2 separate regions of the Homo sapiens genome follow, and region 2 is linked to region 1. The links come from fine-mapping of genetic effects on gene expression. A gene starts in region 1. The other region holds a variant in brackets. All regions are shown on one strand. Distances are from middle to middle. Region 1 holds the start of PTPN21 (protein tyrosine phosphatase non-receptor type 21). Region 2 overlaps PTPN21 (protein tyrosine phosphatase non-receptor type 21).

Evidence for each region.
Region 2: its variant is fine-mapped to the expression of PTPN21 in cerebellum (GTEx, PIP 0.96). The same link has a PIP of 0.9 or more in fibroblasts.

Annotation. Positions count from the first base shown.
Region 1 is chr14:88,552,434-88,557,816 of GRCh38, reverse strand. PTPN21 (protein tyrosine phosphatase non-receptor type 21) reads left to right here and starts at 2,810. Exons shown (of 19, transcript NM_007039.4): 1 at 2,810-3,166. It overlaps LOC124903405 (proline-rich protein 2-like), which reads left to right and starts at 1,027. Exons shown (of 2, transcript XM_047432047.1): 1 at 1,027-1,054; 2 at 2,757-3,160. The coding sequence starts at 1,027. The coding sequence ends at 3,121. RefSeq lists a silencer at 2,803-2,852.
Region 2 is chr14:88,463,085-88,468,467 of GRCh38, reverse strand. It overlaps PTPN21 (protein tyrosine phosphatase non-receptor type 21), which reads left to right. Exons shown (of 19, transcript NM_007039.4): 19 at 203-2,690. The coding sequence ends at 331. It also overlaps a transcript of SPATA7 not described here. Among named protein-coding and RNA genes, the nearest start is that of SPATA7, 80 kb to the right of the region's middle. The variant T/C (reference allele first, on the strand shown) is at 2,672.

The sequences.
Region 1 (5,383 bases):
GTATTCACCATGCTATCAAAACAGATTAACTTTTGAACTTCTAAGAAAACACTAGTCAGTGCACCCACCAAACCACAATTTCCTTTCCTTTTTTTTTTTTTTTTTTGAGACAGAGTCTTGCTCTGTCACACAGTCTGGAGTGCAGTGGCGTGATCTTGGCTCGCCACAACCTGTGCCTCCTGGGCTCAAGCGATTCTCATGCCTCAACCTCCCCAGTAGCTGGGACTACAGGCATGCTCTACCACGCCCAGCTAATTTTTGTATTTTTAGTAGAGACGGGGTTTCTTCATGTTGGCTAGGCTGATCTCGAAATCCTGACCTCAGCTGATCTGCCCTCCTAGGCTTCCCAAAGTGCTGGAATTACAGGCATAAGCTACTGCACCCAGCCTTCTTTCATCTTTTTGTCTTTCATCATTTTATGTGCTGGGCTTTCTTTTTACATTTTATTTATTTTAGTAAGAAATAACTTCCAGTGTAAAAGTATGTGTAAGTATGCCACCTTCTGGATAACAAGAGGGGGTAAAGATACTTATATGTAGTTTCTTGTAACTCTGCAGAACATCTTTGTAAGGATACAGAGGAATGAGGGAACACTGGTTACCTCCCAGGAGAAGAGCTGGGTGTCTAGCAGGCAGGGTGAGAAGGGGACTTTTTACTTACACCCTTTTGTATCTTTGGGGGTGGCACCATATAAATTATCTCACTTCCTTAGATATGCAACACAAGCTAATAATTTTATGTCTAATATTTTGAAGGTGTTATTCAAGTGCCTTCCCATGAATGTTCCTGCCAAATTAACATAGCTGAGGGAAAATAGGGCTTAGGTACTTGGTCAGTAAATGACATCTGTGGACTGTGAGGGAGGAAGTTCAACTCAGTTGTCTAACATCTCTTGGGTTTTATGGTCATTTTCTATTTTTAAAATTCTTTTATTTTCTTCCTGATTCAATTAACAAGTTTTTATTTAGTGCCTACTCTTTGCCCAGTACTGTCCTAGGAATCCTAGGAGATATAAAAGAAGCCGTCATGAAACAACTTTTACAGTTCTTGCCAAGTGTGGAGATCACTGTGGAATGGTGTGGCTAGAAAGTCATCCTGGAAGCAGAGTCTTACTTGCAGAGAAGCAGAAGGCTTAGACAAGTGGAAAGAGGGCAGGAGGGGCTGCTGGCCAGGGGCAAAGCTTGACAGGGGCAGAAAGCGATATAGGTGGTCAGAGAGGCCCGTTTGGAAAGTCCCTATAGGTCAGGCAGAAGAACTTAACCTTGGGAGTCCATTAAGAGTGATAAGAGAAGGAAGCCTGGTATTAGCAAGGAAATAAGAGAGAACTGAGAAACCAGATGCCAGGAGACCACCCTTGTTGCAATAATCCGGATGTAAAATGATGAGGGTTTGGATTTAGAATGTTCCAGGGGGAACAGAAAGGAAACAAAGAATTCATGAGACATTTCAAAGGAGGAAATACCAGGTCTTGATGACAGGCTGGAGATGATAATGGGAGAAGTCACACATGATTCCAGTTTTTCTACCTTGGGAAGCCAGCAAAGTGACTTCTTTTTAGATCTCTTTTCTTTGCTCACACACAAATTGACCCCCTCATAGAGTTCAGTTGAAATATCAATTACAAACAGAATTGATCTATTTTTTTTCCCTTAGAAACACAGGTAATCTTATTTGCCTTTAGCTAAACGACCCAAGATGCACCTTGCTGGGCTTTGCTCTTGGATAGCACTCATACCTCTATGACAATGCTCCCCACTTTGGCCTTGTACTGCGTGTGTGGTGTGCAGGTGCGTTTATCACCCACTAAACCAAAAGTCCGTGTTGTGCAGGGACCACGTCTCATGCAGAGTTAAGTATTCAAAAGTTTTTGTTAATTGTTTAAGAAAATGAGATTTACATGAAACAATACTTTAAAAAGCTTTCCAGAAACAACAGCATTAAAACAAAATCACTGAAATTAAAATTTACATAAATTAAAAGGTTCTGTGTTCCACATGCCAAGAAAAGATCTTACACTATTGTAATAGTGGTAGGGTCACACAGTTTTATTCCTCAGCTTAAGTGCTGCAATACAGTAATAATGCAGTACAAGAATACTGTATAATAAACCTTAAACGAAACACTTCATATATACTTTACACAAGTTATTGGATATTGCTTAGTATTTATTTCCCCCACCCCTGCTGTGCAAAGATATTAATATCCCTCTTTTATAGGAGAGGAAACAGGTAAAGAGAAGTTAAGAAACTTGCACAAGGTCATCCAGCTAGTAAATGTTGGAGCTGGGATTTGACAACTTTGTCAAGTCTCCATCCTTAACAGTTCTGCTCTATATTGCATAAGCAGACAGCTCCCTTTTGGGGACTGACAGGTTATTTGAGGCATATGAACCATTTTTGGTGGGGGGGCTTTCCCACCCAGTACTGGAAGTGTCTAGTTATATGGGGCATAACCTTAGGAGCAAGCAGGAAAAGAAGAAATGTATTCCAATAGTGTTCAGAAATATACCAGAGTAAACGAATAACCATCAATAACAGCATTTTACAGCCTACCTAATAACACAGGAATAAAACCCTTTATCTGGAACCTAAATAATACCCCCTCCACTCATTTTATTAAAAGCCTTGCTTTATTTGGAAACTCTTAAAATAAGTGGTCATACGATTAAAAAAAGCAGCGGCGCGCCCCCTCCCCGGCGGCCGGGCGCAGCTGTCCGCGCCTCCCCCGCGCGGCTGCCCGCATTCCAACTCTCTGAGGTCACGGGCCGCCGCCGCCTCCCCGGATCCGCCCGCCCGGCTCAGGGGGAGGGACGCCTGGGCCCGGCCGCCCCGCTGCTCCGGCCGCGCGTCCCGCGTCGGTCCGACGGTCTGTCCGTCCTCCTGCCACCCCCCGCCCCCACGGGGCTTCTTTGTGCGGCGCTCCTCGCCGGCCGGTCCCACCTCCAGGCCTCGCCCCTCGCCGTCGCCACCGCCGGACTCTGCCCAGGGGAATGGTCTGCGAGCCGGGTTTTTGGAGACAGGAAGTGAGGCGTGCGAGCCCCATGAGCGCGCCGCGGCCCGGGCTGGCGTGCGGGTGCGGCTGCGGCGGCCGCGCGGCGGGGCCCCGGGAGGCGGGTCGCTGAGCGGGGCGCGCGGCCCCGAGGATGCGGGAGCGGGAGCGGGAGCAGGTGAGGGCGCGGTCCCCGGCCGGCGGGAGGGGCGGGCGGCTGGCCCGAGCGGTGGGGTGTGTCCACTCGCCCGGACCCCGGAGCGCGCCCGCGGCCCCGGAATCCCGGAGAATGGGGCGCGGCGGCCAGACCCGTAGCGGGAGCGTAACAAAGAGAAAAGTCTTGTTTTTCAGGTTCGCTCTCATATACTTGAGTAATTTCTAAAAGGAGTCTTGAACTTCTATTCCGAACGCCCTGGCCGATTGTTGCGGGTTAATTCTGGATCAGGGTTTTAAATGTGTTAGGCATATTTGTGCCTCTCAGAATATATAAACGTGAAATTCGCCAGATAACTTTGGCGAGAAGGGGCGCAGGGAAGGACTGTTTGGTAACGCCTGGGTTTGTTTTTGGAGTAGAGTATTTACTCTGGAAACAAGAATTCTTGGATCTGCAAATTCCGACTTGTGATTTCTGCAAATCCTGATTAGATTGGCCGCTCTTGGCATGCTCGTCCTATTTTCTTTTTTGCTGAGAAAGCCTTATACTAATAGCGTATGCTCACAAACACATTCAGAACATTCGTGTGCTCCAAGTGACAACTGCTGTATGCCTAATAGTTGCTGACAGTTTATTTATTTTTTTAAGTTTGGGACACGACAGTAATTTTACTCTGAATATAGTCCGTTTCGTTTCTAGGGCATTTTATTCTGGAGCATCTACGCACAGATGTTTTCTCCGTGAGAAACATGGGTTTAATGCTATAGCTATAGATATTACTCTAAAAATGTCACATACTCTCTCCTTTTAGTGCTTATTTTATTTTAAAGCAACTTTGGCAAAATTACATGTGGTAAGGACCTTAATAGGAAAGGGGAAACGCTGTAAGATTGAGAGGTAAAGTGTATTTGAGGAACTTTTGGAAAGGGTTGTAGAGAGGGAAAATTAAAATGAATTCACAAATAGTTCAGACTGCCTTTTGTAAACTTGTACTGAAGCAGAATCTAGTATGTATCTGTTTACTTACCACAAAACGGAAAGATTTTGTAGAGAAAAAATTATATCCTAGTTTTCCTTTAATAGCTATTTATAAATTATGTTTACTTTAGTAAATTATAATTCCAGACCCAATCACTTTCATATTATTGCATATTATTTTATACCTGAAACAGACCTCCCCAAAGAACTCTTAAATTTCTACTCATCTTGGTTTTATTATCTTCAGACATTCATAATTGTATTACACCATTTGGCAACAAATACTGCATATTACTGAAAATTAAGATGTATAAATCATTGATAAATTTGTAAATTATTAAACAAAATCATTGTTTTAACATAGTGGGTTTTATATAAATAAGCAAAAAGCAAGCCATTCTTATGGATAGATCTTGGGGGGATGCACCATGTACACACACACTGCAACTTTTTCAATTTCATCTACCAAAATAAGAGATAATTTTGACTTTTCCTTTATCCCTGATGCAGTAATACATTTCAAGTCTGAGGGACAATTGAAAGTTTTACTGAGTTTGCTTAATCAGAGCTTAAGTTAATAATTAAGTTATACAGTGTAGTATCTATTGCTTTCAAGGCATAGTTCTATGTAGTGAAAAGACTACCATATTTGAATGGCACCTAATACAAATATTTATCTTTCCTCTACACATATGCAATATCTTGTCTGTTCATCTACACTACTTAATCCGCCCGGTTTCCAGTTACCATAATTTTTATGTAAAATTGAAACCCACCATCTGATCTCATGAAAGGGTGTTTAGTATGCATATTTATAATCCTTAAATATTTACTCTTGGTTTATCAATTTTCTAGTTAAAAGCTTATTATTTAAAGTTGTCATTTGCTAATTTTTTTCCATCTTGCTTTACTTATTTAGTTTATACCCCTGAAACAGCAAAGAGCATTGAAAACTACTGGAAGTGGAAACCATATCTTTTAATACTTATTTTCTGTTTCCCTCCATAGTATGGTGCTTTTACCTACAGAAGGCACTCAGCAAATGCGGTTAATTAACACAGTGCTTTAGGTAGTTGCAGCGTTGTTTTTTTCTTCTGGCCTTCCCCTATCCCTTGTTTTTAATATTTTGATTTTCCTGGCTATGGGAAATAACCAGAGCTCAAAACAAACAAAAAAACTAGCCAGATAAAACCGTGGTTGGGTCCTTATTAGAGATACAGCTCTGTATGTAATTATAGCATGGTTGTAATCTCTTTAAAGACA
Region 2 (5,383 bases), 89 kb after region 1:
GTCTGCATGGACATTCTATTTATAGCTAAAACTAATCAGAAAATCAGAAGTAGGCAATCATGGCTTATTTCTAGAAGACGCTAAGGTGGAAAAGAGACTGTCCATCTCCCAACCAGGTTTCTGCCAGGACACTCGTGTCCTCCCATCCTTTCTGTCTCCCCAGGGGAACACATTATCTTCATTACCGTTTCTCTCAACCTAGGTGCTGGACATCCCGAGAGTGCTGGACATGCTGAGGCAACAGAGAATGATGCTGGTGCAGACTCTCTGCCAGTACACATTTGTGTACAGAGTCCTCATCCAGTTCCTGAAAAGCTCCAGGCTCATCTAAGCTCCCACAATTTCTTACGGGGCCAGTCATGTGAAGCGTTTACAGCTTAAAAAAAAAGCGCTTGCCTAACTCATACTTTCCCGTTGACACTTGATCCACGCAGCGTGGCACTGGGACGTAAGTGGCGCAGTCTGAATGGCGGCACGCTGAAGGAAACGTGCGAAGCACAGGCTGAAGAGGGGTTTCTAACCTGGGAAAGGTGCTCAAGGAGGACTTGGTTTCAAGGGCCTTGCCCTGCCCCGGTCTGTCCGGTTTGCAGTACTTGCACACATTTTGGAGATTGTATTTTCTAGACAATTCTCTATTTTACTGAAGCTATGCTGGGCAATTCTGGCAATCATTAAAGTGCATAGATTTCTATCTTAAACTAATTTTTGATAATGGAGTTTTTATTTTATGACAAATATTTAGGGATTTTTCTAGTGAGAAACAACTTTGTGTAAGGATGATCCACAGATATGAGTTGCTCCTATATAACTTTGTATTTAAAAATCATGTTATTATCTTTTGTTATTTTTTAAAAACCTTGGGTACTTAATAATGGTTTAGTTGCCAAACTGAAAACTATACTGAGAATCTGTGTTATTTTGAAACATCAAAAGGATTTTTCTATCCAGAACATTTTTTATCCTAAAAATTCTATATAGTTGTACCTTCTGTTTTTCAAATGAGAGCTCAATTCATTTAGATACTGAAATGAGTCAGTTAATGTAAAGTTGAGGATGAAGGCACATTATTTAAAATGTAAGAGAATAAGCATTATTTTTTCAGTATTATTCATAGATCTAAATGAATTTGATTTTATTGGTTGAAAATGAAGTGAAAAACAATTGCCTAGGGTGGTTTTAAGCACTTTTTTGTTAAAAACAAATCTGAGTTTTAATATATGTGTTGCTTTGTAGATGACACAATAACAATGGGCGCTGAGAAGCGTTTTGGGAGAGATTAAGGACTAAGAGTATGTAAGATGACTAGGACAAGAGTAGGTGGAGTGTGATGGTAAATGCAGGATGCCTTCGTCTTTACAAAAATGCAGTATTATCTATACTCAGACTGAGGTGCTGGGATGGCGAGCAGGGGACCCCACAGCACTGTCCCCAGGGAATTCAAGTCCTGTGACCGCCAGTGACTTACTCCGTTTCCTTGGGGCTTTTCCCACCTCAACCTGTATTGTTTCTTTTTCATAAATAAATTCAGCATTATAGTATCATTAAAAGAAGCCTTAAAGAGGCGTATTTTTCCTTTTGGTTGAAGGAAGGGAATAGTTAATAATAGTTTTCACCTCTTCTCCCAAAAAGTACAGTCCAAATTTGTGCACAGAGATTGCTGTGGTATTCAAGAGGTACTTGCATTTTAGCTCCTTAATAATTCCCTGGCCAGTGTTAGCTGTTTAGTGCCCCCTCACCCATCCCATTTAGGCACATCCCAATAGACAGAGCCAGGCTGAGTTACAGGGGGAGAGTGTCATCTCTGGCCCCGATTAAGATGGCCTTGTCACAGTGACCGCTGAGTAGGCATGGATGAGTGGGATATTTAGCTGAGGAACCCTTTCCCTTTTCCTTCTTTTTGGGGTCTCTTCTTACAGTGAACTTCCAAAATGTCAAATCTAGGGCTGTTTCCCAAATTACACTATTCTAGGCATCATTTTGATTCCCATGTCACTCCTTAACTCACTTCCTTGAGCACTACATGTATGTTGTCAGCCACGAGACAGGACTTCCTAAATAGTGTGTGCACCAGCCTAACTCTGCCTTACCCAGAAACCAACCACCTAAGAGGAAAACTCAGAAGATATTAATGAAAACTAATTGAAAGTACGCACACTTCTCATGTAGGAACAAAATTAAAATTTTACATTTTTATTTTACAAAATTAAAAAATTACATTTTGTAGGAACAAAATGTAAATTTTGTAAATACAAAATTCTTTTTAAAGTCCTGTTTAAAGAACAGTAGAACTAAGTGAAAATATTCAGAACGAGCTCCTTAGAAGAAAGGAATAAGAACTTTTTACTGGAACTATTTTCCATCTCTAGAAAAAGTGCTTCTTCCCCTCCCCCTCCCTCTCCATGGTACGTTTTTGTGAAAATGCTTTTCTGTCAGGTTTAAACAAACAGTTTGACATAGCTCGTTGACAAGAACATATTGTAAAACAAATCTAATTAAAGAGTAATATGTGGTCTATTTGTGTTCCTGTTGTAATAATTTGATAAGTAAACTTCTGAGGGCAAAATTACTGTTTAATATTACTCTTAAAATGTTGCATGTTTGGCGTCATTCCTAAGAGCCATGTAATTTTAAACTTTTAATTGCAGTTAGTGAATATGAAAGGATTTCTGAA[T/C]AAAAATCTATCCACATTACTGAGCTTTGAAATAGTATCATTTTCAAGAGCAAACTAGAACATTAAGGGTTCATAGGTTTACTGCCTCTGAAATGAGTATATTAATGTCTGCCAAACTTACACAATGCTTCATGTATCTTAGTGTCTTTTAATAAGAATTATCAAAATGTGCACTTCCACAAAACGTAGAGTTATAAACCACTGTTTTCCACTGATCAATTTTGGTATCTCTGGTATCAGTTTTCCTGATTAGTGGGGTCTTTTGATGAAATAGTTTAGCTTAGTTGGTAGTTTTGAGCACAGAAAGTACTCATTTTATTTTTTATTTTTGAGACGGAGTCTTGCTCTATTGCCCAGGCTACAGTGCAGTGGCATGATCTCGGCTCACTGCAACCTCTGCCTCCTGGGTTCGAGTGATTCTCCTGCCTCAGCCTCCTGAGTAGCTGGGATTACAGGCATGCACCACTATGCCCGGCTAATTTTTGTATTTTTAGTGGAGACGGGGTTTCACCATGTTGGCCAGGCTGGTCTCCAACTCCTGACCTCAAGTGATCTGTCTGCCTCGGCCTCCCAAAGTGCTGGGATTACAGGCGTGAGCCACTGTGTCCAGCCAGAAAGTCCTCATTTTAGAATATCATTTGGAATGCTTATTGTAGTCATTAATTTCTTCTGGAACATCTACTGTGAAGCATTCAGAAAATGCTAGAACTTAGACTTTAAAACCCTTTGGTCGAATTAGAAGCTGGGCCTGTGCTTCCTTAGAAACGTCCAGAAAGCAATGTCTAGCCAGAAACAGGAGGAGGAGGGAGGAGAGTGTGGTGTTGTGGGACTGAGTGGCGACAGCATGACGTGGCCAGCTTTTCTGTGAAGCTTTCACCATCAGTCATTTCAGAAGGGTTGAGATGTTAAATGTTCACAATATTAAGAAAATTTAAATATACAACTATGTACAGTAATATAAACTGGAGATTAGCTGCAGCTTGCCAAGAGCAGGTTTATTATTTGAGATTTGCATAAAGAAATGGAAACAGGAAATTATTGTAAATAAGACTTTTTTTTTCTTTTTTGAGACGGAGTTTCGTTCTGTCACCCAGGCTGGAGTGCAGTGGCACGATCTCGGCTTACTGAAACCTCCACCTTCTGGGTTCAAGCAATTCTCCTGCCTTGGCCTCCCAAGTAGCTGGGATTACAGATGTGCGCCATTACGCCCGGCTAATTTTTAATTTTTAGTAGAGATGGGGTTTCACCATGTTGGCCAGGCTGGTCTCGAACTCCTGACCTCAGGGGATCTGCCAGCATCGGCCTCCCAAAGTGCTGGGATTACAGGCATGAGCTACCATGCCTGACTGTAAGTCAGACTTTTTAAAGGAACTCTTTTGGATAGAAATGTAGTTGAATTTGCTTATCAGCAAGATTTCATGTGGAACAAGCTAAAACTATCCCTTTCCAGTTTAAACTTAATTTTTTAAAAAAAGAATCTAAATTGCAGGGTGCTTTCTTTTGAGCTGAGGGATGGACATTTCAAAAGTAGAGGAATAGCTGCATTAGAAATTTGCCTGGGAAAACATTTCTCAAAAGAATATGAGCTTTTCAAATTCCTGGAAATAAGAACTCCATTTACCCTACTATCTAAAATTATTTATAGAAAAATGAGGAAGGCCGGTCGTGGTGGCTCACCCCTGTAAATCCCAGCACTTTGGGAGGCCGAGGCGGGTGGATCACGATGTCAGGAGTATGAGACCAGCCTGGCCAACATGGTGAAACCCCGTCTCTACTAAAAATACAAAACTTAGCTGGGCATGGTGGCACGTGTCCAGCTACTCAGGGAGGCTGAGGCAGGAGAATTGCTTGAACCCAGGAGGCAGAGGTTGCAGTGAGCCGAGATCTCGCCTCTGCACTCCAGCTTGGGTGACAGAGCAAGACTCTGTCTCAAAAAAAAACAAAACAAAAACAGAAAAATAAGGAAATGTCAGGAAATTCAGATCAAAGTTTGCATGTCTACTTGGGTAGAGAGAGTTTTAGAAAACATTTGAAGTCCTTGGATTGTTAAAGTGGTGGCATAGTTTTCTGGGTATTTCAGGTAGTTCCCAAATAAAAAATATGCTCTAAAAGTTCACTTGTATGTTGACTTTTAGTAATATTTACCCATGCAAACAATACTCTTGGTGTTAGCCTTCTTAGTTTGTGCCCTCAAAGCTTACTGAAACCATAGGGGCCCTGAAAGGTAAGCAGTGGTACAGAACCAAACCGTATCTGTATGTGTTCTGTACTCCAAGAAATTATAGGGCAACTTTTCTCCCTACTGCACCCTGCTGGTGAGATCAGAGAATAAATACTCCTGTCGGGCAGTGGCAACCAAGACTCAGAAAGCAACTGAAGTTAAGTGTCTGTTTTATGGGAAACTTTTCAGAACGTATGCCAGCGTTTGTTGCAGAAACTTGAGCTGTGCATGGGTAAGGAACAGAATGGGCCTTATAATGTGAGCAGGGATCTTGCTAATGAAACTGTCTGAAGTGGGGCAGGGGGTGAAGGAGGGCAAATTGGCAAAACTGTCCCCTACCTTTCCTGTTGCCACTTATATGTCCTCCTTAATATTACTGGCTTGAAATGGGAAGTAAGGGATGGCCCAAGAAGGAAGGTGAAGGTCTTCAGCACCCAGCTGAAGGAGCAGCAGTTCCAAGGCAAATGCTATTATATAGAGGGTATCCCTAG